Linked DNA regions of Homo sapiens: region 1 is linked to region 2. The links come from fine-mapping of genetic effects on gene expression. A gene starts in region 2. The other region holds a variant in brackets. All regions are shown on one strand. Distances are from middle to middle. Region 1 overlaps BUD31 (BUD31 spliceosome associated protein). Region 2 holds the start of ZSCAN25 (zinc finger and SCAN domain containing 25).

The links. PIP is the estimated chance that this variant, and not a neighbour inherited with it, causes the effect.
Region 1: its variant is the best candidate, but not a certain one, in a credible set for the expression of ZSCAN25 in transverse colon (GTEx, PIP 0.64).

The regions. Positions count from the first base shown.
Region 1 is chr7:99,415,232-99,420,601 of GRCh38, forward strand. BUD31 (BUD31 spliceosome associated protein) reads left to right here. Exons shown (of 6, transcript NM_003910.4): 4 at 907-1,029; 5 at 2,198-2,364; 6 at 4,160-4,385. The coding sequence ends at 4,210. It overlaps ATP5MF-PTCD1 (ATP5MF-PTCD1 readthrough), which reads right to left. Exons shown (of 9, transcript NM_001198879.2): 9 at 1,508-4,918. The coding sequence ends at 4,736. PTCD1 (pentatricopeptide repeat domain 1) reads right to left here. Exons shown (of 8, transcript NM_015545.4): 8 at 1,508-4,918. The coding sequence ends at 4,736. Among named protein-coding and RNA genes, the nearest start is that of MIR12119, 8.7 kb to the left of the region's middle. RefSeq lists a silencer at 402-451. The variant C/T (reference allele first, on the strand shown) is at 2,982.
Region 2 is chr7:99,614,402-99,619,769 of GRCh38, forward strand. ZSCAN25 (zinc finger and SCAN domain containing 25) reads left to right here and starts at 2,545. Exons shown (of 8, transcript NM_145115.3): 1 at 2,545-2,615; 2 at 4,124-4,250; 3 at 4,647-4,731; 4 at 5,160-5,368. The coding sequence starts at 5,206. RefSeq lists enhancers at 1,691-2,670, 2,261-2,580.

The sequences.
Region 1 (5,370 bases), 200 kb before region 2:
GCAGGATAAGCAGTGTGAACCATCTCCAATGATAGGTAAGGCCACATGGGTCACGTGTCCACTGGAAAGCGGGCCCTTGCCTGCCTGGCACCAAGGCAGAGAGAGAGAGACAGCTTATGCCATTATTTCTGCTTATCAGAGACTTTTAGTACTTTCACTAATTTGCTATTGTTATCTAAAAGGCAGAGCCAGGTGTACAGGATGGAACATGAAGGCGGACTAGGAGCGTGACCACCAAAGCACAGCATCACAGGGAGATAGTTAGGCCTCTGGATAACTGCGGGCGGGCCTGACTGATGTCAGGCCCTCCACAAGAGGTGGAGGAGTAGAGTCTTCTCTAAACTCCCCCGGGGAAAGGGAGATTCCCTTTCCCGGTCTGCTAAGTAGCGGGTGTTTTTCCTTGACACTAACGCTACTGCTAGACCAAGGTCCGCTTGGCAACGGGCATCTTCCCAGATGCTGGCGTTACCGCTAGACCAAGGAGCCCTCTGGTGGCCCTGTCCGGGCATAACAGAAGGCTTGCACTCGTTTTCTGGTCAGTTCTCACTATGTCCCCTCAGCTCCCATCTCTGTATAGCCTGGTGTTTCCTAGGTTATGATTGTCGAGTGAGGATTATTATAATATTGGAATAAAGAGTAATTGCTACAAACTAAGGATTAATGATATTCATATATAATCATATCTAAGATCTATATCTAGTATAACTATTCTTATTTTATTTATTTTATTATACTAGAACAGCTCGTGCCCTCGGTTTCTTGCCTCGGCACCTGGGTGGCTTGCCACCCACAGCCATCCTAGTGGGTATAAAGTGGTATTTATTCATTATCAGTAGTTACTTACAAAAAGAAAATCCTGCGCAGACCGACCCTATTCCCCCAAACACACTCTTTGTTTCTCCCCAGCTGAAACAGAACCGCATGAGGGAAAGAGGAAAGTGGAATCTCTGTGGCCCATCTTCAGGATCCACCACCAGAAAACCCGCTACATCTTCGACCTCTTTTACAAGCGGAAAGCCATCAGCAGAGGTAATTAGTCAGTCTCTCTTGGACTTTGAAGCTCGCGTCACTTTTGGAGTTACTGAACTAACCACAATCCTTATTCTCGCAACCTGTGCAAGTCATGGTTTTTCTTACCACGAAAATTAGGGGGAGCCAACGTTGGCTGAGTTTTGTGTGTGTGTTTGTTTTTTGTTTGTTTGTTTTGAGATGGAGTCTCACTCTGTCACCCAGGCTGGAGTGCAGTGGCGCAATCTTGGCTCACTGCAAGCTCCACTTCCTGGGTTCAAGCGATTCTCCTGTCTCAGCTCCCAAGTAGCTGGGATTACAGGCACCTGCCACCACACCTGGCCAATTTTTGTATTTTTAGTAAAGATGGGGTTTCACCATATTGGTCAGGCTGATCTTGAACTCCTGACCTCAGGTGATTCACCCGACTCGGTCTCCCAAAGTGCTGGAATTATAGGCGTGGTCCACCGCTCTTGGCTTTTTTTTTTTTTTTTTTTTTGAAACAGGGTCTTGCTCTGTTCCACAGGCTGGAGTGCAGTGGTGCAATGATGGCTCACTGCAGCCTCAACCTTCTGGGCTCAAGGGATCCTCTCACCTCAACCTCCTGAGTAGCTGTGACTACAGGTGTGCACCACCACACCCAGCTAATTTTTAAATTTTTTGTGGAGATGGGCCCTTGGCCCAGGCTGGTTTCTTAACTCAAATGATCCTCTGGCGTTGGCTTCCAAAAGTGCTGGGATTACAGGTGTGAGGCACCTTGCCTGGCCTAAGTACTTTTTTTTTTTGTTCCTCCTCCAAGGACTGTCCCGTTGCAATACTGAATGCCTTTTTTTTTTTGAGATGGAGTTTCGCTGTCACCCAGGCTGGAGTCCAGTGGCACGACCTCAGGTCACTACAACCTCCGCCTCCTGGGTTCAAGTGATTCTCCTGCCTCAGCCTCCTAAGTAGCTGGGATTACAGCTGCTACCACGCCCGAGTAATTTTTGTATTTTTAGTAGAGACGGGGTTTTACCATGTTGGCCGGGCTGGTCCTGAACTCCTGACCTCAGGTGATCCGCCTGCCTCGGCCTCCCAAAGTGCTGGGATTACAGGTGTGAGCCACTGCACCCGGCCTGAATGCTTTTTTTGATCAAGGGTGGGGAAGGTTTTTAGACCATGGCCTGATGCTCTTTCCCCATCTTTTTGACAGAACTCTATGAATATTGTATTAAAGAAGGCTATGCAGACAAAAACCTGATTGCAAAATGGAAAAAGCAAGGATATGAGAACTTGTGCTGCCTGCGGTGCATTCAGACACGGGACACCAACTTCGGGACGAACTGCATCTGCCGCGTGCCCAAAAGCAAGCTGGAAGTGGTAATGTCTGACACTCAAGCTTGGTGTTGTTTTCAGCTCAAAATTCTGCCTTAGTCGACTGCAAGGGATCTTATGTTATTTGGTTGGGCTGGAATGTCGTTTTGTCCCTGGATGTCCTGCTGGCTCTCCCTCGTGGGAGTGGGTCCCTGTATTCAGGAATCCATGTGAGGCAGCGTGTGGCTGTGTGTTTGTTAGGTCTGGGGTCAATCTCAACTCCACTTTTGGGCAAATTACTGAACCCCTTTCCTCACTTAGGAAATGGTGGTGGGGAGCCCTAATCCCAAGGTGGTGGCAGGGTGACATCAGGGAAGGACAACCAGTGAGTTCCTGTCCCTTTCAGTCCTCACAGTGATACTTTAACATTACCATCACTATCTTTCCCGCCCCCCCAAGACGGAGTCTTGCTTTGTCGCCCAGGCTGGAGTGCAGTGATGCCATCTTGGCTCACTGCAACCTCCACCTCCCGGGTTCAAGCGGTTCTCCTGCCTCATCCTCCTGAGTAGCTGGGACTACAGGCATGCACCACCACGCCTGGCTAATTTTGTATTTTTAGTAGAGACGGGGTTTCTCAATGTTGCTCAGGCTGGTCTCGAACTCCCGACCTCAGGTGATCCACC[C/T]GCCTCAGCCTCCCAAAGTGCCGGGATTACAGGCATGAGCTACTGCGCCCAGCCCACTGTGTTTCTTCTTTCAGAACTTTCTGTTCCAAGTACCACTCCTAGGCCAGGCGCCTCAGGAGTGGTGCTGAGGGACAGGAGCTGAGCTCCATCCGGTTCCAAGCCCCTCTGAAAGGCAGCTGTGGCCCGAGGCAGAGTCACAGCAGTGGCCGCTCAGTGCAGCCCCTCAGCACAGTTGTTGGCCCCACCGCCCATCTGCCAGCCTGGCCTTCTTTTCCCCAGCTCCACACAGGGGCCTCTTCACATGAGTCCCCTTTATGCTGCAGTGAGACTGACAATGGAGAGCTGTGGCTGGATGCTGAGGACTTGGGTACTGAGCAGTGGGGGCGAGCAAGGGCCGCCTCCCCGACGGAAGACTGGGGTGTTGGTTTTCTGATGGAGGCAGGGACAGGTGGCAGAGTGGCAGAAGCCCCCTTCCTCTGAGTGCCCAGATTCCACAAGGAGTCCAGGTCAGGGGCTGGTGGGCTGGGGTGCTGCTTCAGCCCTGTGGCCAAAACAGCCCGCTGTAGACTTACCTGGGTTTCACCAGAGGATCCTGTTTACTTAAACTATGGTCTTGTTCTTCCAAAAAAAGAACTTGAAAAAGTAAAATAAACACAAGCCACTGTTCTAGGGCTTTCTGGCTGGCCAAGTGTTGGGCCGCACCAGGCCTGGGGGACAAGACCCTTCTTTCTGGGGGGCTCTGGGCCAGAAGGGTGTGACTCAAGTGCATAGTCTCCTGCCCTCTTCCCCCACCAGAGTGTACCAGCCCAGAGGCCCCCCTGAAGTCCCCAAACAGTAGCAGAGCCACGTCTGCTCATCGCAGGGTCTGTCATGCTCACTTAGCAGAATAACGAGACTCATTCACACCGATTTCTTTTTCTTGATTGGCAAACGTGTGTTGGATTTGCAGAACATATTATAAATAGACATACAGATGTAACCTCGGTGTCAACAGCAGCTGGTTCTACCTTCATGAGGGAGCCAAATTTTCCCTGTCCAGAGCTGTCAAGGAAGGGTTTCTGAGGTGTGTCCCTATATGGCATGGTGGCAGGTCCTTCGTGGGAGGGTTGCCACATATGTGAGTGTGCAGGGGCGAGCGTGGCGCAGTGGCATCGTCTCACTGTCCTCCTCCGTTGCAGGGCCGCATCATCGAGTGCACACACTGTGGCTGTCGTGGCTGCTCTGGCTGAGGCTGGCGCGCTCCACCCTGGACTCTGGACTTCGCAGGTTCCTGCCTGTCACGCCACCCCCTTCCTGGGAGCAGCGAGCAGTGCCCCAGGCCCGAGTTGGAGCACGGTCTCTATGGGGAAGGCTTCGCTGTCTATCAGCTGTGATTTGTAAAAATAAAATCTTTAAATCTCTCGAGCCCCACGTCTCTTCTTTCAGAGCATCGGCCTATGGAACCCGGCGGGGCGGCCCAGGCCCCAGGGACCAGATGCCCCAGCCCCCTTGTGGTGTGTGAGGTGACACACAAAGGTAGCTGGAGCTGGAAGTCCCGTGAAGGTGACACGCAAAGGTGGCTGGAGCTGCACTTGGACCTGCTGGGAGCACAGGCACCTTGGGCCTAGTGTGTGTCCTCACCAACACCTGTGACACGCTGCGGCTGTTCCTCAGGGCCTGGCTCTTCCCCCAGGCAGGAGGTGACACCAGCTCACTTGTCCTGGGGCTCCCACAGAGCACTGGGGGCCGAGCACATTGTTCCAGCTGTGCTCCCATCACCTGCCCCCAAGGGCACATCCGTCATCAGCCTCCTTGCCGGTGTCCTGGTCCCCCTGGGGCTTGGTCCGGAACTTCTGCCAGGGGTGCGGGGTTTCCTCTGCGGGCATCACTGTCAGCCACTGCTTGTAATAGGCTCGGAAGCCGTCAATCTTCTCCAGGTAGGTGTTCTTCCCTTGGTACTAGAATTAGAAAAGTGAGGCTAGAATCACTCCTGTTACCTACAGCTAATCCCAAACCTCGGCAGCTGGCTCAGGCCTCAGGGAAGCTGGTGGCTGCCATTTTCCCTTCCAGGTGGCTGCAGAGGACAGGGCAGAAAAGCTGTGAACACGCACTATGGGACTAGCTTACTTCAGAGAAACAGGTCCCCGCTGGGTACCCTGGGGCAGGCCCAGAGCCATCTGCCCAATGGCGTTCTTCCCAAATAGGCACCACTGTGCTCCTCCATCCGCAGTTGCCACCCCAGGCCCCCAAGCCAGAATCACTGGGTCCCACCAGCTCTGCCTCCACAGCCTGCCGAGCCCCTCCCCATCAAAGCCACCTCCCTCTGACCATTATCTCAACACTGCCAAGATAGGCTCCATGAGATATGGGGAAAAAAGCAAAGACACACCAGACACAAACTGAGAGCTGG
Region 2 (5,368 bases):
CAAAATAGTAATGAATTATAAGATAACATCAAAGTAAAGAATAATACCTAGAGAAATCATCTTGCAGAGATTTGATTTTTTAAAACTATGCCTAAAGTTTACTCAAGGAAGAGCATCTGATAAGAGAGCTTTCCCCCCATAAACCAAGGACTGCAAAAGTGTGGATTATCAGAAGAGATCCGGTACATTCAGGGTGGTATGGCCATAGACAAGGGCTGGGTTATCAATGTAAGGGTGAGAGATAAGTCTCCTCTCCCGTACCCCTACCACCAGGAGCCAGCAAGGCAATTTGTCTTAGTGCCACGCTGGACAACCACAAAACCACAAAGATTTGTGGTTGAGAAGTTGCAACCACAAATCACCCCTCAATATTTGCAGCCCAAATTCATATTACTATTATAGCATGGTTCAAAAATCCTCAAATTATAAATTTGGTTTACAATGACCTTGGACTGGTGATGCTGACAAGAAAAAAATTTACATGGAAGAAAAACAATATCAACCCTCTCTAGATAAATTCACTTTATCCTGGAACTCAAAGAAATTTCACAAAAATGTTTCCAAGGAAAATGAGCAGCCTGTCACACAAGGAAACAAGGTACTGTGGTATGTTCGAGGAAGGTATGTTTGAGGAATGCCCCCAATTAATGTCCTGGGGACATTATTTAATGCTCTAGGGACATTATATAATGTCCCCAGAACTCATAAATCAATAAGAAAGAGATAAACAGCTTAATAGAAACACAAAGAAAAGTCCGTTCACAGAAAAGGGAAGGCAAGAAGTTAATGAAAGTAGGAATAATGACTGACCTCACTTATAATGAAGAACATGCAAATTAAAAAATGAGGTAACATTTACTTCACCTGTCAATTGGCAAAAATTAAAGCTGGATAATGGCAGAGATGATGAGATATGGGAAATGGATGCTGTTAGGTACTGCTGGTGGAAGTGGCACCATCAAAAACAGTGGAAATAGCAGATCACAGAAAGATATCTGAGGGGACTTCAGATCTCAGAATTATCAGGCTCAACTATATTTACTATGTACAAAGAAAAGCTTAAACATATCGGTAAATTCTTTTAAAAGATCGATCTAGAATATTTGGAAAAAATCAAATAGAAATTCTAGAAATGGAAAAAATATATTAATTAAAACAAAAATATGGGTGGCCAAGTGGGGAGGATTGCTCGAGCCCAGGAGTTTAAGACTAGCCTGGGCAACATAGTGAGACCCTGTCCTTACAAAACATTTTTTAAAGATTAGCTGGGTGTGGTGGCTCATGCCTGTAGTCCCAGCTATTTGGGAAGCTGAGGTGGATTGCTTGAACCCAGGAGTTGGAAGCTGTAGTGAGCTATGATAGCACCGCTGTACTCCAGCCTAGGTGACACAGCAAGACCTCGTCTCTTAAAAAACAAAACAAAACAAAACAAAAAAACAACAACTGTGGATTTTGTAGCACATTAGAAACAGCTGAAAAGTGGATTATTAATAAAAAGGTGAAGACATAAACCCAAGTCAAATATGGGCAGACAAGAAAAATATGAAAGTGGGACAGAGACATGGAGGATAAAGTGAGATGGTCTAACACCTATGTTATATTCTAGGAGTTCATTTACTCTATAAGTGTATATTTTTAGCAAATATTGTACCAGACACTTTGCAAAGTGCTGGAGAAGAGTAAGACAAGAGGGTTTCCTGTTTCCTGAGTGGATTCTGGAGTAACACTGGGCCACCCAGTTGAGACAGACTGCCTTCAGGCTGGACGCGGTGGCTTGCGCCTGCAGTCCTAGCACTTTGGGAGGCCAAGGGGGGAAGATCGCTTGAGTCCAGAAGTTGGAGACCAGATTGGGCAACATAGAGAGATCCCCCTCTCTGCAAAAAATTGAAAAAAAGTCCCAGCTACCCAGGAGACTGAGGTGGGAGGATTGCTTGAACTCAGGGCTTCGAGGTTGCAGTGAGCTATGATCTCACCACTGCACTCCATCCTGGGAGACAGAACAAGACTTCTCTCTCTCTTTCTCAAAAAACACAAACAAACAAACAAACAAAAACCCCCCACAAAAAACAGCTCCGATGCTGGCTCCTCCAGGAAGCCTTCCCTGACTACACATACACACACGCACGCACACTACCCGGGGTCAGGAGCCTCTTAAGTGAGCCGGTTAGATCCAGTGCGCCCCCTATCTCCTCTGCCCCTACGCCTCGCGCAAGGCCCTCGCAGCCGGAATAGTCGCGCATTGACCGACTGGACTCTAAAGCCCCTTGGGGCAGGTGCTGTGTCCAGTAGTGTATCTGGCGATGCACCGAGTCCTTTCCACGGAGGGCAAGCAGGTGAAATGGCACGGAAGTGGAAGGGGCCTAGCCACAGAGCGCCTCGAGCTGGGCAGTCAATCCTGGGGAAGCCCTGGTGGTCTTCGCCTCGCCGGGTTCGGAACAGCAGGCTGGGATCAGCAACCATCGAGACGCATCCGCCGAGACCTCCGAGCATCCTAGAGAGGACACGGAAGCGAGTCTTTCCTTACGCACCTGTCTAACAGCGTCCGCAGCTCACTTCCGGACCGCGGATAGCACTGGCGACCCTAGCGGGTGAGAGGCCCTTCAGGGCCGCGGCGGGTGAGAGCCTCTTCAGGGCCGCAGCGGGTGGCGGGCGAAGTGGTAAACGGGCGCGGGGACGGGTTTTGGTGCCGCTACGGGGCTCGGCGGCAGCGGGGTTGCAGTAGAGCCCGTCTCCCTCCGCTCAGCCCCGGCTGAGGGCGGCAAGTCTCTCAGGAGCTGCCTTCAGCGGCCCCGAGGCCCTGCGGGTCTGGACGCTGAGGGGCCGCCGCGCTGTAGGCTCAGGTAGGAGCGAGGCTGATCCCGCTCTGCCAGGCTTGGCTTAGTGCAGGGCTGGCCACGAACCCGAAGAGATCTTGAACCAAAGCAGAACTCTGTGCAAAGTGAAAGTAATCACATAGGACACTTATTTAAAGAATAGTGATGAGCCAGCCTGGTCAACATAGCGAGACCCTGTCTCTACAAAAATTGAAAAGTAGCCGGGCGTGGTGGCACGCGCCTGAGGTCCCAGCTACTCGGGAGGCTGAGGCAGGAGGATCGCCTGAGCCCAGGAGTTCAAGGTTGCACTGACTTACATTCATGCCGCTGCACTCCAGCCTGGGCAACATGGGGAGACCCTGTCTCTACAAAAATAAATAATTAGCTGGTCATGGTGGCACTCGCCAGTAGTCCCAGCTACTCGGGAGGCTGAGGTGGGAGGATCGCTTGATCCTAGGAGGCAAAGGCTGCAGTGATCGCACCACTGGTCTCCAGCTGGGGTGATAAAACCCTGAGATCCTGTCTCAGAAACAAAACAAAAGAGTCACAATGGGTGGGGGGAGATAAAGAATAGCAATGGGGCAATTTCTATTTGTCAAATGGCAGAGATAAAAGATGAATGAGGATCTTTCTTGCCTCCAGGGAATCTGTTAGAGGGAGACACATGGGTAAACATTTGCACTGTAGTGCATTAAATGCACTAGTGGAGTGAACCAATGCAATAGCTAGAAAGGAATGAAAGAGAAATCTCAATGTTGCAGAGTCAATGAATAGACTGAAAATATAAACTTGGTTTAAGTGGGGGTAGATAAATACACAAACTCACAATAGAATATTTAGCAGAAGCTTTGGGGTGTGCCTCCTGCCAGCTGCCCATTCTCTGCTCCAGTCAGGTGATCTTTCCGTTTTCTGACAAGCAGGATCTCCTTCCCCTGGTGCTTTGGACTTCCAAGTCTGTCTTCCCAGTCTAGGTCTTCCGCATAATCCACTTGGAGGTAAATAGGACTCATTCTCCAGTCTACTTCAAGCCTCTTCTTTTCCTTGAGTACTTGGACTTAGATTAGTTTTCTCTCTTTTTGACTTCACATTTTTTTTTCAATCTGTACCATGTATTTTGGGAGGCAGTTATCATCTAGTCTCTTTTTTTTCTTCTGAGAAGTAGGAGGAGTAGCACTCATCCTACAGAAGTGTTTTAAGTATTAGATGAAATATGTGTTCACATGCTTTCTAAAGAGTAAAGCCTGTACAAGTTAGAAATCTTTAGGTCATTTGTCATAATGGTATATATGTTGCTCCATTGTCTTTTTCAGGTTGAGCGCACCATCACATCTAAGCCATCAGCAAGTTTGTTGGTTTTAATCTCCAAAATACGTCTTGATTTTGTCTGACTCTTTGCCACCACCCTGATCTAAGCCCTTATCATCTGCTTGAATCACTGTAAGTGCCATTTCCCTCTTGCCACCTCTAGCCTATTCCCTGTCAACACACAGGCAGAATGACTTTTATAAAACATGTAGTTCCTCGCTAAAGTAAGAAATAAGAATAAAGTTCATAATTCTTTCTGTGGCGCAGGCTCTGGGTGATCTGGTTTCTGTCTGCCTCTGCCACCTCTTCTGGTGCAGCTCTGCTCGTCACTGCTGAAGCCACACTGGGATATGGCTTGTTCTTGGACACCCAGAGTAATTTCTTAGCCTCAGGGCTTTTGCCTGGAATGCTCTTAGAATGACTGACTCATTCTCATCCTTGAGTCAGCCTGGTATCATGTCTTTAGAAAAGCCTTCTTCAAGTCAGTTGCCCCCTGTTAACAGAGCACCCTACTTATTTTCTTTCTAGAACTTGTCTCCACTTGCAGTTTTTAAAAGAGTTGCTTCCATTTGACTTTTTCTGTCTGCTGTACCAGCATATGAGTTTCAGGAGGGTAAGCTCCCAGTGTGTCTTGTTTTCTATTTTATTTGTTGTTTCTGCCTGCCTCTTGTGTGTGTATATGTGTGTGTTTGTGTGTTGCATGTATGTTTCCTTTAGTATTGGAAGAGTAGGCCCTGGTGACTCACCCAGTTATAACCCATTATATATTATTCTCTGATTGTAGTGTTATTCTCCAGTGAGATCCTAAGTTATTTGTGGGTATAAAAGCAAAATCTTAGACATTTTCTGTTTAGTCTCTGTACCTAATAGTTGCTTAGCAAATGATTACTATGTTGAATTGACCTGACTTTTGGGATCTGTGTTCAGTCTTTTGAAAATGCCTTGTAAAAGGTAATTACTGTGTTCTCCAGTGGAATATTCCTTGATGTAGAGACAGAACTGGGATGGGCTGACCTTTCATGTGTCTCTTGTTCTCAAAAGGGTCATTGATGCAGTCATTCTCAGTCTCCTCGGAGGGAGTCTGAAGATGCTTAAAGAGCATCCAGAGATGGCGGAAGCTCCTCAGCAGCAGTTGGGTATTCCTGTGGTGAAACTGGAGAAAGAGTTGCCATGGGGCAGAGGAAGGGAGGACCCTAGTCCAGAGACTTTTCGGCTGAGGTTTCGGCAGTTCCGCTACCAGGAGGCAGCTG